Homo sapiens: one gene and its partner. The protein of the gene in region 2 interacts with the protein of the main gene of each other region in a pairwise test. Each region holds a gene or a part of one and is shown on either strand. Other genes may lie near its edges.

Evidence for each region.
Region 1: the proteins of STMN4 (region 2) and CMTM3 interact in binary tests that used the Homo sapiens proteins (3 or more experiments, as listed by UniProt).

The regions. Positions count from the first base shown.
Region 1 is NC_000016.10:66,606,843-66,614,627, reverse strand, and holds the end of CMTM3 (CKLF-like MARVEL transmembrane domain-containing protein 3), read right to left. Parts: intron 6,320-7,785; coding exon 6,164-6,319; intron 5,194-6,163; coding exon 5,098-5,193; intron 4,870-5,097; coding exon of another isoform or gene 4,771-4,869; exon of another isoform or gene 4,746-4,770; coding exon 4,625-4,745; intron 2,020-4,624; coding exon 1,991-2,019; 3' UTR 741-1,990; downstream 1-740.
Region 2 is NC_000008.11:27,254,829-27,263,366, forward strand, and holds the start of STMN4 (stathmin-4), read right to left. Parts: upstream 3,577-8,538; 5' UTR 3,523-3,576; intron 1-3,522. UniProt on the Homo sapiens protein: Exhibits microtubule-destabilizing activity.

The DNA of each region.
Region 1 (7,785 bases), on a different chromosome or scaffold from region 2:
GCCTCTGTGACACCAGCTTTGCCGCTTTGCCAGGGCTTACAAGGTGGAATGTAAATTCCACCAGGGGCCTCTCCACTCCTGCACACCCAGCTTTCTTACCCATTTTCAGCACATGTGGTGTGTGACAGTTTGGGTGGAATGTCTTGTCTTTTCCCATCAGCCTGGATAAGAATGCGGACCCGGGTCCTCCAGGGCTGTAGTCCTCTGGGCTGTTATGCAACCAGCTTCCAAACCAGGAGAGCCCCAGGGTTCCGGCTGCCTGAGGCTGCCGTGAGACACTATCCTGATGTGTAAGTGAGAGGGCCCTGGGCCAGTTACCCGACCTCTGTCTCAGTTTCTTTGTTTATAAAACAGGGTAGTGTGAGAACTAGAGCAGGGGTCCCCAACCCCTGGGCAGTGGACTGGTACCATGGGACCTGTTAGGAGCCAGGCTGCACAGCAGGAGGTGGGTGGCAAGCAACGGCATTACCGCCTGAGCTCTGCCTCCTGTCAGATTGGCAGTGGGATTAGGTTCTCATAGGAATGCGAATCCTATTGTAAACTGTGCATGCTACGGATCTAGGTTGTGTGCTCCTTATGAGAATCTAATGCCTGATGATCTGAGATAGAACAGTCTCATCCTGAAACCATCCCCTCCCACCCTCACCCCAACCCACCCGCCAACCCCCAGTCCATGGAAAAACTGTCTTCCACGAAACTGGTCCCTGGTGCCAAAAAGGTTAGGGAAATAAAGGATTAAATGGTAGTCAGATTTCACGTGTATTTTTGCTAAAACTGAAAGCTGTCAGGATCCACATTGGTGTTACCAGTTTGTACTGAAGCCTGATACAATACCCAACAGTATTGCTCTGGTTTTTTCAAGCACACACTCCAAGCAAGTGGTCAGTCTGGCTTAATTCATTATGGCTTTTTTTCAGGGTAAGAGATTCACACGCAAGAGAATAAGGCTACAAATGCTCCAAACATGGGTCCAGAACTCTGGCTCTTTTGTGAGGCCTAGAGTCACAGAAAATGCCATCTGTTAAGAAGCTGCTTTTGCATAAAAAAATATAAAAAGTTACAAAATTCCATCAAAGACAGATACACAGTATAAATCGTTAGGTGAACACAGAAGGCTGGTCTCATCTCCTGCAGTGGCCCATAGACCTGCCCTGAGGTCTGGAAGTTCACTGTCCTGAGGGTCCAGGAACTCCTGCCTGCTGGCTGGGCTCTAGGAAGAAGGAGGGTTTGGCTGGGCCCGCCCAGCTCCCCATGACACTGTCACTGTGATGCCACTGTTGTACCCTCTGTCTTCTGGACCAGTCAGTCTATGAGCTCTTCTTTGAAACAGTCTTAGACCCAGAATGGTCATCTCACCCCCAGAAGACATGGTTTCCAAGGGTGGGAGGTGTTAGTTATGGGTGCCGAGCCCCACTTCCTGGGCGACAAGGCAAAGGTCAATTTCTCCCTGCTTCAAGAATGAAGAGGGAACTGGTGCTCCTTGAACCAAAGATTCTTGGAAGGGTCATTGTCACCAAAGTGGCTGGTGTGGGCAGGAGCACCAAGTGCAGACAAACCCACCGGGGCCTGGCGGGGCAGCCCTGTCATGGTTTCTGTCTTTGTTCCTGTTAGTGAAACAGAAGACCCCCGACCCCCGCCACCTAGCAGCATGGAACACCTGCTGCCCAGATACAGACAAGGCTCTGCTTTGTCTCCTTGTGCTGGTTTTTGGCAGAGACGTTAAAGGGCTGAAGGCCTGTGGGACAGAAATGGGGAGAAGGAGTGGGATACCCAAGATGCCCTCATACGCAGCGTGGTCAACAGTGCTGAGCTGAGGGGCAAGCCTGGTAGGCTGGGCTCAGGCAGAACCTGAGGCTGTAGGGGGCCTGCTGTGTCCGCAGCCCCCTCTGCAACTCAGAAGTCCAGGCCTCCGCTCCAACGCCAGCGACCCCTGTGAGGCGCAGGGGTGGAGGCCTGTGTGGCTCAGGTTGCCAAGGCACCCGCCAGGCCTTCAGTCAGAGTCCGAGTCGGAATTCTCTTCTGAAAGGAAAGCAGAGAGGATGCTTGGCAGGAGGCTCAGGGCAGCGGTGCCTGGGAACGGTCTCTGGGGAAGCACAGCTGGGTTGCTGGCAGGAGCCTGGGTGCAGGCCTCCTGCAGCTGACTCTACCGTTCCCAGTGATCGCTGGCATCAGGGCAGGCCGCGGGCCTGAGGCCCTCCACAGGCAGCAGCCACTTTCTCTCTCTCTTTTTTTTTTGTTGTTGTTTTTTGTCTTTGAGACAGAGTCTTGCTCATCACCCAGGCTGGAGTGCAATGGCGGGATCTCGACTCACTGCAACTTCCTCCCTCCCGAGTAGCTGGGATTATAAGCGTGTGCCACCACACCTGGCTAATTTTTGTACTTTTAGTAGAGATGGGCTTTCACCAGGCTGGTCTTGAACTCCTGACCTCAGGTGATCTACCCACCTCAGCCTCCCAAAGTGCTGGGGTAACAGGCGTGAGCCACCGTGCCCGGCCGCAGAAGCCACTTGCACCTCCAGGGTGTGGGTGCGGGTGCAGGTGGGGGTGTTTCCACCCCAAGACTGAAGCCCAGGTGCCCCTTCCTCAGGCCCAGCCCCTCCGGAGTCTCCCTGGGCTTTTCTCAGCTGGGTGGGTCAGGGCTGTACCTCTGCATTCCAGCTCTACCCCCACCCCCAGGTTCAGCAGGACAAGGTGAGGACAGCTATTTTCTTGTCCCCCAAACTAAAATATACTGGAAAATCAGCAAGCCTCTTTTTAGCCATTTTATATCTTCAATCCCCCTCCCCCAATCCTTGTTTAATATTGTAATCAGAAACAATTTTATAATGGTAAGGGCCTGCCTATGAGGTGTACCTCGAGGGTTCCTGAAATCCCAGTTCTGTCTCGGAGCTCTGTAGAGCCTTCTGGAACCTCCACCCCAGAAGGAAAAGCACCAGAGTCACTAACCCCCAACCCCACCCCAGTGCTGGTTGCTACTTCCTGATGCTCATCCCCTCCCTGGCCAGCCTCTGTCTCTCAGAACCCCAGTCAGTCCCCATGAGCTGTCGCTGGCTCATGGCTGGGCTCAGGGCTGGGGTGTGGGCAGCCTAGTCCCTAAACCCCAGCTCTGTCCCTCACTCCGGTTCCTGGGCTGCACTCGTCAGATTTTGTGGGTTTTGCTATATTCAATTTTTTCCCCCCGAGATGGAGTCTCACTCTGTCGCCCAGGCTGGAGTGCGATGTCTTGATCTCAGGTCACTGCAACCTCTGCCTCCCATAGGTGATTCTCCTGCCTCAGCCTCCCAAGTAGCTGGGATTACAGGCGGGCACCACCATGCCTGGCTGATTTTTGTATTTTTAGTAGAGATGGGGTTTCACCGTGTTGGCCAGGCTGGTCTCAAACTCCTGACCTCAAGTGATCCACCCGTCTCGGCCTCCCAAAGTGTTGAGATTACAGGCGTGAGCCACTGTGCCTGGCTGCTATATTCAATTCTAACATATAAGTCAAGAATAATTTTACAGCAAAATAATTGTTACATATGTGAAACTCTCCAAATAGTAAAACAAAAAAAACAAAATAAAACCACCCAAGTTTCCACTGACGTTTACTAATTGGTCCCTGGGCTGGTTGTCTGGGATCACTTGCTGCGGGCAACTGGGAGCAGGTTGCAGAGCCTGAGGAAACCGCCTGGGAGCTCTAACCTAATATTTGCCAAGGGACGGGATGGGATGAGTGGCATTCATTTTCAGCAGAAGGACGGTTTCTGGGATTCACAAATCCCCATGGCCCCAGCACCTGGCTGTTAGGAAACCAGTGGCTCTTAAGCCTAACCTACTGGTCCTGCCTAGGGAAGATCCCAACCACAGGGTGGGGCCTGCAGGCCCTTCCAGAGCTGCCCTTGTCTACCTGTCCAGCCACAGGCACTGCCAGCACAGGGGCACATCCGCCTGGTCCAGAGAAGCATCTCCCCAGGCAGAAGCGCCTGCTGTCTCTGCTCTCAGCCTTCTTCCCTACACCGGCCTGGTCTCTTCTGCCTGCACACTCCTCTACTGCCATCTGTCAGTACCCAGCTCTAGTGTCCCCTCCAGAGCCTCGGGCCAGCTGACACCCAGCGTGGGCCTGCTTTCAGCTACTGTATCCCTCCCTCTATCGGCTCCTGTTTTACTGTCGTCATTGCTGCCCCATCTGGCCCCTCCCCTGGTACGGGACACATCATCTGTCCCTTGCCACGGTTTCTGGGTCTGACTCCTTTCTGGGCTCTGAGCTTCCCAGGACAGGCCTGGATGGGTAAGACAGCAGAGGGGCTGGGTTTGGGGGATGGCCACTCTGGATCCCAGGTGGACAGGTGCCCGAGAGTGACTGGCTGCCCAGGGGGGTCGTCCAGGGAGACTTGCCGGCCTGGCCTGAGGCTCAGCCATGCCCACTGCTTGCCCCTCCTAGAAAGGCTGGGGTGAGGGTGCACGAGGCGAATGGGACTGGCTTTGGATCAGTGCTGCATGAGGGTAGGTGAGAATGGGCTGTGAAAACACTTCCTGCCATGGGGAGAGAGGAAATGATCCCACCCCAGCCTCAAACTAGCTGGCATCCCCGAGGGAGGGCAGGCCCCTGTTGCAGCACTGCTGGGGTGATCAGGGCAGCCGCTTACCTTCTGTCTTGTGGGCTGTGGTCTCATCTGCAGAGTCCCCTTGTTTGAGGAATTTGGCCACGTCGTTAAAGATCAGGTAGAAATCAGTTGCAAACACGATGGTAGCAAAGAAGCCAAACACCTGTGGACAGGGTGGATGGGATGCATCACAGGGCTGACTCCCTGCTCCGGGAGGCTGCTGCCCCAGCCTCACGGCCCATTTCAGATCTGCTTGGACAAACAGCCCGAGTGTCAGGCACAGACCCCTGTGAGTAACGGAAGTGGGAAAATGAGCTGTGAACTTGGTTTGACAAACAGCCTTTCAAAACCCCGGGTAGAGTCAGTCTTTAATGAGAGGACTTTGGAATCATCATCGGGACCCACATGAGACCCCAGGGGGGCCCCAGCAGGGAAAGGCTCTGCCCCAGGTCCCACCCTAAATGAGGGGCTAGAGGGGCATCTGCAGTTTCCAGAGGGGTGGGGCGGCTGCTCACCCCAGCGGCTTTGGAAGCCCCATCCGAGTACTTGGCGATGGCCGTGATGGAGATAGCAAAGTAGATGAGGGCCGCGGTGACACAGCGCAGGAAGTCCTGGGGAGAGAGGGGCATGCTGCCCTGAGCCCCTGGAGCTGAGCACAGCATGGGGAGGAGGCCTGGCAGCCTGGTCGTGTTCCCAGCCCCAGGCCTAGCACCTGAGGGCTCCTATCCCATCCTGGCCCCACCCACATGCCTAGGCCCTTGTCCCACCCCCGAGGTGCCTCTGCTGCCTTGCCAGCAGCTGACACTGCCCTATCCCGGGTCCAGCGGGGCTGCTGTCCTAAGCTCTGGGCAAAAAACTGTGTGGATCAGGGTGCAGCCTGCCCTGCGATGCGGTGGAAGCAGAAGTTGGAAACACCCCCACCTGCTCCCTTCCCGCTCTCCATTGGGGAGATCTGGCTCTGGGCCTCGGCTTTGTCACACTCTTGTGGCCGATCCATTCATGGACCACAGTTTCTGCTTATCCGTCCCTAAGATGGGGACACAGAGGGTGCAGCCCTCCTGAGGCAGCAGATGCTGGATATGAAGTCAAGAGACAAGGGTTCAAGTTGAGCCTTTGCTGCCCTTTCTCTAGGACACATTTCATTCAGCGAGGTCCACTGGGGTCTGGGCCCTCACAGGTGATAAAACGAGGTCAGGGTTGCCGATGGCTGAAGTCTGGGTAAGCCCTGCAAGTCCTCAGTTAACCTGTCCTGCCCACGTGGAAATGGCTTGAATTCCTGTGGCGGCAGCTCATTCCTGTAGGCCCGGTGGGGAGCACCGGCGCCACCTGGTGGCCAGAGACCCCTCTCCGGGTTCCCTGCCTCACAGACCTGCTCTAGAGGCACCACAGCCCACTTGAGGTCACAGGGCTGCTGAGTAGTGGAGCTGGGATGATCTGAAGCTGGGTCTCTCCATCCAGTTCTAACCAACTGCAAACTCCAGCACACTAGAGAAAGGATAAGGGCCCAAGTGCACGACTCTGGACTCCTCATCTGGCCACTTTGTGCAGGGCACCCCTCCCTCCTGGGGCCCCTGTCCTCACCATCATGGGCCAGCACAAGCCCTGCCACTTGTCATTCAGCTGCATGGCATCAGCAAAGAGGAAGTACAAGGCCAGCAGGAACTCCAGCAGAGGCGCTGTGAGGAAGGCAGATGCTGAGGACGCCACATAGCAGATAAAAGTGATGAATGAGAGACCCTGCGGGGAAGGAGTTTGAGGTGAAGTCAGAGCCTTTTCATGTTCCTTGTCCAGTGCTCCTCTGAGCCAGGCCCTGTGGTCAGGATAGAGGAGGTTCCAGCAGGGGAAGCCAACTGCTCACAGTCCCGCAGCTGGGAAGTGGCAGAGCCAGATTAGAATCCCAGGCCAAGCACAGTGGCTCACACCTGTAATCCTAGCACTTTGAGAGGCCCAGGCAGGTGGATTGCTTGAGCCCAGAAATTTGACCCCAGCTTGGGCAACATGGCAAAACCTCATCTCGGCAAAATATACAAAAATTAGCCGGGCATGGTGGTGTGTGCCTGAAATCCCAGCTACTTGGGAGGCTGAGGTGGGAGGATCACCTGAGCCCGGGGAGGTCGAGGCTGCAGTGAGCTGTGATCAGGCCACTGCACTCCATCCTGGGTGAGAGAGAGAGAGACCCTGTCCGCACCCGCCCCTACAAAAAAAAAAAACCCAGCATGGCCCAGGCTCACACCTATGCTGCCTCCCAGTCCTGGGCATGGCCCTGAGTCCTCACCTTACCCCACCCCAGCTCCCTGACAGGACCTAGTCAGAAAGCCCCAGCCTTCCAAGCACATGCACTCCACTCAGTGCCCTGCGGAGGGAAATCAAAGCGAGGCAGGAACCAGTTTCCAAAAAGTAACACCCAACACCAAAGACGTGTGCTCGTCACTGAATGTAGATTTCACCTTGAAAAGAAAAAACCTTGAACCTTAATGATATGCGTCCTGAAGTGTTCAGAGTTGAAATGTCCTGATGTCTGCAATTTATTTTGTGTTAAAAGATAAAATGCCTTGATGGACAGATAGATAAAGCAAAAAAATCTTTTGGAGTTTTAATGTATTTGCAAATTTTCATAATGATAAGAAAGGAACATCTAACAGAGGGTGCGTTGGCACTGACACCTCAGGCCCTGCTGCCTTATTCATACAGGGCCAGCTGTGAAAGGTGGGGCCAGCTGTACTTGAACTACAAGAATCAAAATGTTCACTGTGGTCTTGCCCACAACTCTGTAGGTGGGAAGAGCTGATGCAGGAGGATGTTGAGCCCTGGGCAGTCCTGCAGCCCAGGTACGCTGCAGAGCAGGCCAAGGTGACCTGTTGGCCAGCCTGGGGCTCCACAGTGCCTGGTACCCTGAGGCTCACGGGCATCTCCTCTGACCCTCACATCCACCCATGAGCACAGCCCCACTTGACAGATGAGAAGACTCTGTCACATGGCTAATCAGAGGCTACTAGAATTTGAACCCAGGGCTGGCTGACCCCCCAGATAGAGTTATCTTACCTCCGCCCCAGAGATGGAGTCTTGCTCCGTCTCCCAGGCTGGAGTGCAGTGGCACGATCTCAGTTCACTGCAACCTCCACCTCCGGGGTTCAAGTGATTCTCCTGCCTCAGCCTTCCCGAGTAGCTGGGATTACAGGCGCCCGCCACCAAACCCAGCTAAT
Region 2 (8,538 bases):
ATGTGTGTGTAGGGGATGGAGTGGGAGCACTCATATATGTGTGTGTAGGGGATGGAGTGGGAGCATTCACATGTGTGTGTAGGGGATGGAGTGGGAGCACTCGTGTGTGTAGGGGATGGAGTGGGAGTGTTCAGATGTGGGGGTTCATGTGTGTGCATGCATATGTAGGTGGGAAGGGCGCAGGTGTGCATGTATTCATTTGTCTTCCTAGAGGGACTAGAGATGTAAAACTCTGAAAAAAAAAACAATTTTTAAATGGCAGGGAAGAATTTTTGGTATCCATCCCTCTCTAAAGAAAAACAGAAAAAGCAACCTTTCCCAGGCTGTCACATCTCTAAATATAGCAAATGCTAATTTAATAAGCAAATCGAATTATACATGATGTATGTTTATTTCTCAAGCTTAAAAAAAATGGATTTGTTCCCTGAGTGGCGTTACGAAAATTACACTTTACATGTTGTATAATTCCCCAAAATTTCTATCTCTCCTCCCACAAAAGCAGTTTCATTTCTCCCCATCTGTGTCTTCAAAATCTCCGGGAACTCTATGTTTCCAAATGAGAATCTCCAGGTAAGTATGAAATAATATAAAGATATCAGAGGGGGCAGGGGAGACAGTCTGAAGCATTCTTGAAAAATTAAGCCTTTCTTTGATTATGATCTTGATACTTAAATATCCTATTATTTAAAAGCAAGAACACAAAATATCTGAATTTTTCCAATCCGTCTATACAGTTGGTTTAATATAGACACAATTCTCCTCCTTTCTTTATCTCTCTCTTACCTTCCTAATTTATTTGCCCCATGTTCCTTTTTCCTGCTCAAATACCCTATTCTCTGAACCTCAGTTTGTCAATCTTTGTTGCTCTATTTTAAAAGTTATCAATCAGCCCACATCCCCCTACAGGAAAAATGTGGTTAAAAATGGCCTAGTCCAGTAAAAGAAGATAGCCACTTGGAATTTGGGTTTCTTTTATTGAACCAAAGTGAAATCTAGCTATTAAGCAGCCATCCAAGCAAAAATGCAGGACACTTTCACCGTCCCTCCACCTCTAGTCGACAACCTGGCCACTATGGACAATATGAGACCAAACTTCTCCGTCTTTGATAGGTCCTTTAGAATGAAGTAACTCACTAAAGAAGGACAGCTTCCCATAAAAAAAAATATTTAGATTTAATTACAACTTAAAGGCACTTATTTTTTACTTGGGAATAGGGACACACAGTGTACAACATGGATGAGCCTTGAGGACATTACACTCAGCGAAATAAGCCAATCATAAAAAGACAAGTACTGTATGATTCCACTTATCTGAGGTACCTAGAGGAGTTAAATTTATAGAGAAAGAATGTAGGATGGGATTTTCCAGGGGCTGGGGCACAGGAGAATGGGAAGTTAGTGTCTAATGGGTATGGAGTTTCAGTTTTGCCAAATGAAAAGAGTTCTGAAGATTGCATGCACAGCAATGTAAATCTTAATACTACTGATTTGTACACTTAAAAATAGAATGGCAAATTTTATGTTATGTGTATTTACCGCAGTTAAAAATTAAAAAAAAAAGGTTGACTATCTATTGGGAGTTTTTCATAGGCTTGTAGTCTTAGGGTTAGGAGAGGTAATTAGAAGTCACTTAGCCTAATGTTTCTCAAACTTTTTTGACTGAAGCTCACAAAAGGTGCTACATTTTATATTATGATCCAGTATGTATTTGTCATGATATGGACATATACACACATATATGATTACAGATACAGACATATATGTACATTTGTACACACAAATATACACATAACTGATATGTAACTAAAGACAGCATAGGAAGCATTAATTATCCCATTACATGAGATGTGCTCTAATTATTTTCTACTCTTATTCCATTTTATTAAAACAAAATACCATTTACAATCCATAAGTTGATTTCACAATGTACTAATGGGTCTCAGCCTTCAGTTAAAACACTAACCTAGACCAATCCCTAACATAATGCAAAAATCTCCTCTAAAGCCTCCCTGCTGGGTGGCCATCCAACTTCTGCTTGAATGCCTTCAGTGACAGGGAACTCACTCCCTACAGGGCAGCATGCTCTATGGTAGTCCCATCTAGCACTTGCAGATCCTGCTCACTCCAGAGCTGTTCCAGGAGTGGCCTGGGTGGAGCTGAGAATGCCAGGAGGGCTGGGACCAGCTGACAGGTGCTCAGTGGTTTCCAAGAGGGGTGAAAGTACAGCTCCTAGCAGCAAAGCGGAGGGTTGGGGTGAGCCAGAGACTAGGGCAGCATTGCTGGGAGACTCTGGCTTCCTTCTGTGGAGCTGCAGATCAGACCTTTTCCCCTCTGCCTTCTCACTGCTCCAGCACTATGATTATTTCCTCATCTGAAGGATGATCTCATTCCCCTAGCACCCGCCTGTGGGAGAGGTTTCCTCCCCCTGGGAGGCGGGGGCTCAGCCTCAGGTGGAGACAGATTCCCTCATATTCCCTCTCAACCTCCCACCCATCCCTCGAGCCTCAGCAGGCCACCTCTGGCCATCCCACCTTGTATTCTCTTGGTCTTAAGACAGGGGGTATCCCTTCCCAGGGCATTCAGATAAGGGTGCCTGAACATTCCTGACCTCTCCCTCCGACCCCCATACAAACACACACACACACACACACACACACACACACACACACACACAGCATTCTGGAGACCTGCTCATGTTCAGGACAACAAGACTCCACCACACCTGATTGTGTCTTCCTGGGAGAAATAAAACAAAGACAGCACCGCCACGTGGGGACAGCTGACTGCTGGACATCAAAACCCTGGGTCCCAGGATGAGAAATGAATGATGCCTAAACTCCTGGCAAGTGTGGTGGGCTGAATAAGGAGGGGGACTGGCCAGGGCCCCAGTCAAGGACCAGGGCGTGGCAGTTCTGGGTGTCTGCAGTTTTCAGCTTTGGAGCCAGCCACCTCTGGCCAGGTAGGATTAGGCTGACCTCAGGGTGGGGCGGGGCCAAGAGGAGGTGATGATCTCATTGCATCCTTAGAACCAAGAGAAAAAAGTAACCCGTGCATAGAGCCGAAGGAAAAGATGTGTGATCAAAATGGGAATGGGAGACAAGAAAAGCTGTGTCTGAGGAAGAAAAGGTAAAAACACAGGAGAGCTTCCCACTTGAAAGGGATCTTCAGGTCACAGCCAGCTGCAGGGGCAGCCAGACTCAGCACAAAACCTTTCTCCTTAAGCAACAAAACATTTTTATGCAGAAATAGCTCACCATAGCATCTGACAATTCCCACCCATCCTGCCTCTCCTGAGCTCTGGAATAAAAGTGGCACCCGGAGCCCACCCTCACCCCTTGGCCGAGCGCCATTCTTTCTGCCTCACCCCCTTTCCCCCAAGATCTGACAAAGTTTAAATGATTGAGTAGAACCAAAGGTGACACAATAGGTGCTAGGCCCCTCGCTTCTCCCCACTGTAGCTGCTGTCTTGTTTTTTCTTTTGCCTGAAAAGCCTCAAATTAGTTGCATTTTATTTCTACTTACGTGCAGTCCAGTTAGAAGCGAGCTGCTCTCTTCCTCACTCCCTCAATTAGTGGTACCCTGGGCTTCTCTCAACATCAGCACCACTGCTCGCTCTTGCCATGACATCACCTCCAAGCTCTGTGATTGGCCAGCAGTGGGTTGCTTGGCAATTGGACAGTCTCCTCTGGTGGAGCAGGGATTGCCTGAGTGAGTAACTCTTAGCAGGCCAGGGAGTGAAAGATGATGTCAGACAAAGAGCCTGCTTTCTCTGCTGCCTGTGGAGCTGGAGAACCAGAGGGGTGAGGGCGGAGAGGAAGAAAGAAAGAGGGAGTGGTACAGAGAAGGTTGGGGAGAAGCCACAGCTTGCGAGCTGGGGGTATAATGAATGATTTCCAGGATCTTTAGGTCCTTTAAATTTGGGGGTGAGAGAATATGGAATCCAGAGAAGAAATAAAAAAGAACAGATGAACCCTAAAAATAGCTTCCTGGAGGGCTTGGTGCCTGTTTCCAGCTCTGTCAGAAGGGCTGGTGGGTTTGAACGATGACTCAGAAGGCGGGGGGTTGCGGGGACTGCAAAAACCCCAGGATTGGGAGCTGATGAGGGCCCTGCACTGGAGTCTCTGGAGAATAAGGCTTCCCTCTGGCCACCTTTGCAAAGGTATCAGCCACATCTCTGCTGACACTAGTGGGTCCTCACTGCCCCTCCCATCCAGCCCTCCTGGGCCTTCCAGAGGGAGCCACAGGTAGGAAGATGGACTGGTCATTACACTGGTGATTCCCAAATATGGTGGATTTTTTAAAATTTTCAGTAAGTTTTTGGGAAACAGGTGGTGTTTGGTTACATGAATAAGTTCTTTAGTGGTGATTTCTGAGATTTTGGTGCACCATCACCCGAGCAGTGTACGCTGTCCCCAGTGAGTAGTCTTTTATCCCTCACTCTCCTCCCACTCTTTCCCCCAAGTCTCCTAAGTCCCTTGTATCATTCTTATGCCTTCGCGCCCTCCTAGCTTAGCTCCCACTTATGAGTGAGAACATATGATGTTTGGTTTTCCATTCCTGAGTTACTTCACTTAGAATAATGGTCTCCAATTCCACCCAGGTTGCTGCAAATGCCATTATTTCATTGCTTTTTATGGCTGAGTAGTATTCCACGGTGTGTGTGTGTGTGTGTGTGTGTGTGTGTGTGTGTGTGTGTATTACATTTTCTTTATCCACTTGTTAATTGGTGGGCATTTGGGCTGGTTCTATATTTTTGCAATTGCGAATCATGCTGCTATAAGCATGCATGTGCAAGTATCTTTTTTGTACAATAACTTCTTTTTCTCTGGGTAGATACCCAGGAGTAGGATTGGTGGATCAAATGGTAGATTTACTTTTAGTTCTTTAAAAATTTTTCACACTGTTTTCCATAGTGACTGTACTAGTTTACATTTCCATATGGTGGAATCTTGAGGGGGGGTGACGGGTCAGCGATGGTGGCTTCTGTAGTTCCCTCAGGGAATGAGGGAGCCACTAACATAACCTTCACAGGCTGCTGCCCTCAGCCAGTGAGCTGGAGAGGGCAGGGTGAGGCAGGAGAGGAGCCAGGCAGCTGTGGAGCGAGACCCCCTCCTCCAGAACACCTCTCCAGATTAAATCCCCCCAAGATGTGTCCATCATCCCCACATTCCACCGTCCAGCCTTGCCTCATGTGTTCTTCTTGGTGGGGAGGGGTAATTTTTTTTCTTTTTTTTTTGAGACAGAGTCTCGCTCTGTCACCCAGGGTGGAGTGCAATGGCGTGATCTCGGCTCACTGCAACCTCCACCTCCCGAATTCAAGAGATTCTCCCGCCTCAGCCTCCTGAGTCACTGGAACTACAGGCACGCACCACCACACCTGGCTAATTTTTGTATTTTTAGTAGAGATGGGGTTTCACCATATTGGTCAGTCTGGACTTGAACTCCTGACCTCGTGATCTGCCTGCCTCAGCCTCCCAAAGTGCTGGGATTATAGGCATGAGCCACCACGCCCAGCCGGGGAGGGGTAATTTTATTGAGGCTGAACATGTCCAACATAACGCTCACCATTTTCACTATTTTGAAGTGTATAGCTCACTGGCCTCAAGTGCACACGCATTGCTGTGTAGCCATCACAGCTTTCCATCTCCAGAACTTTGGCATGTTCCCCAATATTCATATGTAACCAGTAAGCAATAACACTCCTTTCCAGCTAACCCCAAACTACTTTCTGTCTCTATGAATTTGCCTATTCTAGGCACCTCGTATCAGTGAAATCAAATAGTATTGTCCTTTTGTATCTGGCTTCATTCTCTTGGCATGTCTTCAAGGAGCATCCATGTTGTAGCATGTGTGATAATTCCATCACCTTGCTCCTCCCTCCTTTTTTTTTTTTTTTTTTTTTTACAAAGTCTTGCTTTGTCATTGAGGCTGGAGTGCAGTGATGTGATCATGGCTTACTGCAACCTCTGCCTCCCAGACTCAAGTGATACTCCCACCTCAGCCTCCCCAGTAGCTGGGACTACAGGCATGTGCCACCACACCCAGCTAATTTTTTATAGAATCAGGTTTTCACCATGTTGCCCAGGCTGGTCTCAAACTCCTGGGCTCCCACCTGCCTTGGCCTCCCAAAGTGCTGGGATTATAGGCATGAACCACCACGCCTGGCACCTCACCCTATTTTAGGAGGGTTTGTTCACCCTCTACCACCAAACCCCTATTGACTGAGAACACGAATAATGACAAAAGTTGCCTTGAATTCAGCCCATGCTTTGAAGTTATTATTTTTAAACTACAGTAGCATCAATGAGCATTTGAAAATCATAGTTAATGCATGGATGTCACATGTTCACCCTGCAGACTGTGCTGGGGATTAAGTAGATTCTCAAGCCCTGGCATGAACCCCTGACCTGCACCCCACTGCCAGGACCTGCAAGCTGGCATCTCACCACAGCACCCCGTGTGGTTCTCCAGGAGGCCCCATGTAGACACACATCTCCAAGCCCCCACTTCACATCCAGAGGGGAGGGCTCCAGTTAGGCTGCCAGCCCCTGGCCAAGCGGTGGCCAGGATGAGGAATGAGCCCTGACAGCCTTTGGGGTTTTCAAAGCACACCAGAGCTGAATCTATGGTGTAATCCTTTCAGCAGGGCTGCAAGGACGGCAGGACGAACACTGTGCTGTTTGACATTCAGTGAGTATCACTGAACAACACACTTATCATTCATGCCACATGCCACCAACCCAGGACCCTCAGCCATCAAGCTGAGCCTTTTCAGTGGGAATCAGGACAACTAAGGATATCAGAAAGTCATTCCCTCAACATGTGGAGACAGGAGAGGCCACACTGCATACCAGGCTGGAATTTGGAGTCCAAGCAAACCCCAAATGCATGGCTATCCTAGCTGTGAAGGGGGCCTCTCTGTCCTCCCCTAGTATCTTCCCTCCCAGCCCTGAGAAGTCTGGAACTCCACAAATCTGCTGGCTCTGGAAAGTGAGGGATGGGGAGAGAAGGCAGTAGGTTGCCATGGTGATGGCAGCCAATCAGAGATCCTCTGCTGCTAGGGGAGGAGCAAGTTCGGTCTGAGTCCCCCTCACTGACTGTGAAGGAGGGTGGAGCTGGAACAGGGGGAGAAAGAGACAGGACATCACTGCCTGACAGCAGAGACCAAGGTCGGGGAGAAGGGTCATGGGGAGGGTGGCTCTATTTCTAGGATTACCTAGTTTCCATTTGGTACTAGGTTGTGATGGTTACACACACACACACACACACACACTCAGTACATCTCACAACTGCCCTGTGAGAAAGGGATTACCCACCCCATTTATAAAAGAAACAGACTCCAATAGGAAAGGTAACCTCAAACAGCCTACCTGTTATGCAGCGAGGCCTGGATTTGAACTCTGGGGAACGGGATGCGGGAGACACTGGCGAGAGAGTGAGTAAGGTAAGCAGGGTAGAGCCACGGCCCCAAAGACCTACTGGGTGGGAGAGTCCCTGGGACTTCCCTGAGATGGCATAAAGCAATATGTTGATAAAACAAGAAACACAGAAATGGTAAGAAAATGTACCAAACACCAAGTCCATAGAACAAAGGGCGAGGAGAGACCAAAATCAGAAAAGAAATCAGCAAGGTCAAAACTAGGAGGCTCAGAAGGACAGGATGGCGATCAGGGAGCAGGTGGAGGGGAAGGCGAGGTGGGCGCTCTGTTCCTCACACCGCAATATGGAAAGCCCCTGTGAGCCTTGTTGAGAAATGTGGGCTGGCCCTGGACCTGCCAAGTCAACTTTGGGTTAGACCTGTTGCTTGTGATCAATCTACCCAAATGCTGGACTTTAGCCAAAGGGGCATGGGGCCCACAACGCCCCTCTGCAGACACCACCTCTCACAGCCCAAGTTGCACTACAGCAACAATACTAGGATGGAGTGTGTGTGGCCATTCCCTGAATCCCCACGCATTGCCTGGCTGCACCATGCGGACCCGATTCCTATATCTCTGCCCAGGAATCCCAGGGCAGCCACTGCTTGGTGACTTGACTCACCATATAATAACTCACACTCACAGCCTCTCAGGCACAAAGGAAGGGGCCCCTGCCCTTCTCAGAGGTAGTTCTATCATAGGACCAGCTGGGAAGTCACCCTGGGGACCCTCATGGAGCCTGGGATCTCTTCCCAACCCTCAGAAAAAGTGGACCTAGTCTCACATGGGAATTCAGAATATCTAATCCATACATGCATGTCTCTTCCACTCACACCAATGTGGTTTGTAAAAACTATAGAACATCAATGGGAATTTATCAATGGGAAATTGCAGTTTGTGGGATTTTCTTCTGTAGAATTTGTTGAATTGAACATTATCAGTTATTGACTTGAAACAAGTAAAAACATGTTTGCACTATGTCATTTTAAAAATGTGAACTCTTATTTCACCTGAAGAGTGGCTGTCCTGACTCACATGCTCTGGAGTCACTAGTGGCTTAGATTTTCCTTCAACAAATTAAAACACAAATCAATTCAATCGATTTGAATCCAAGCAAAGC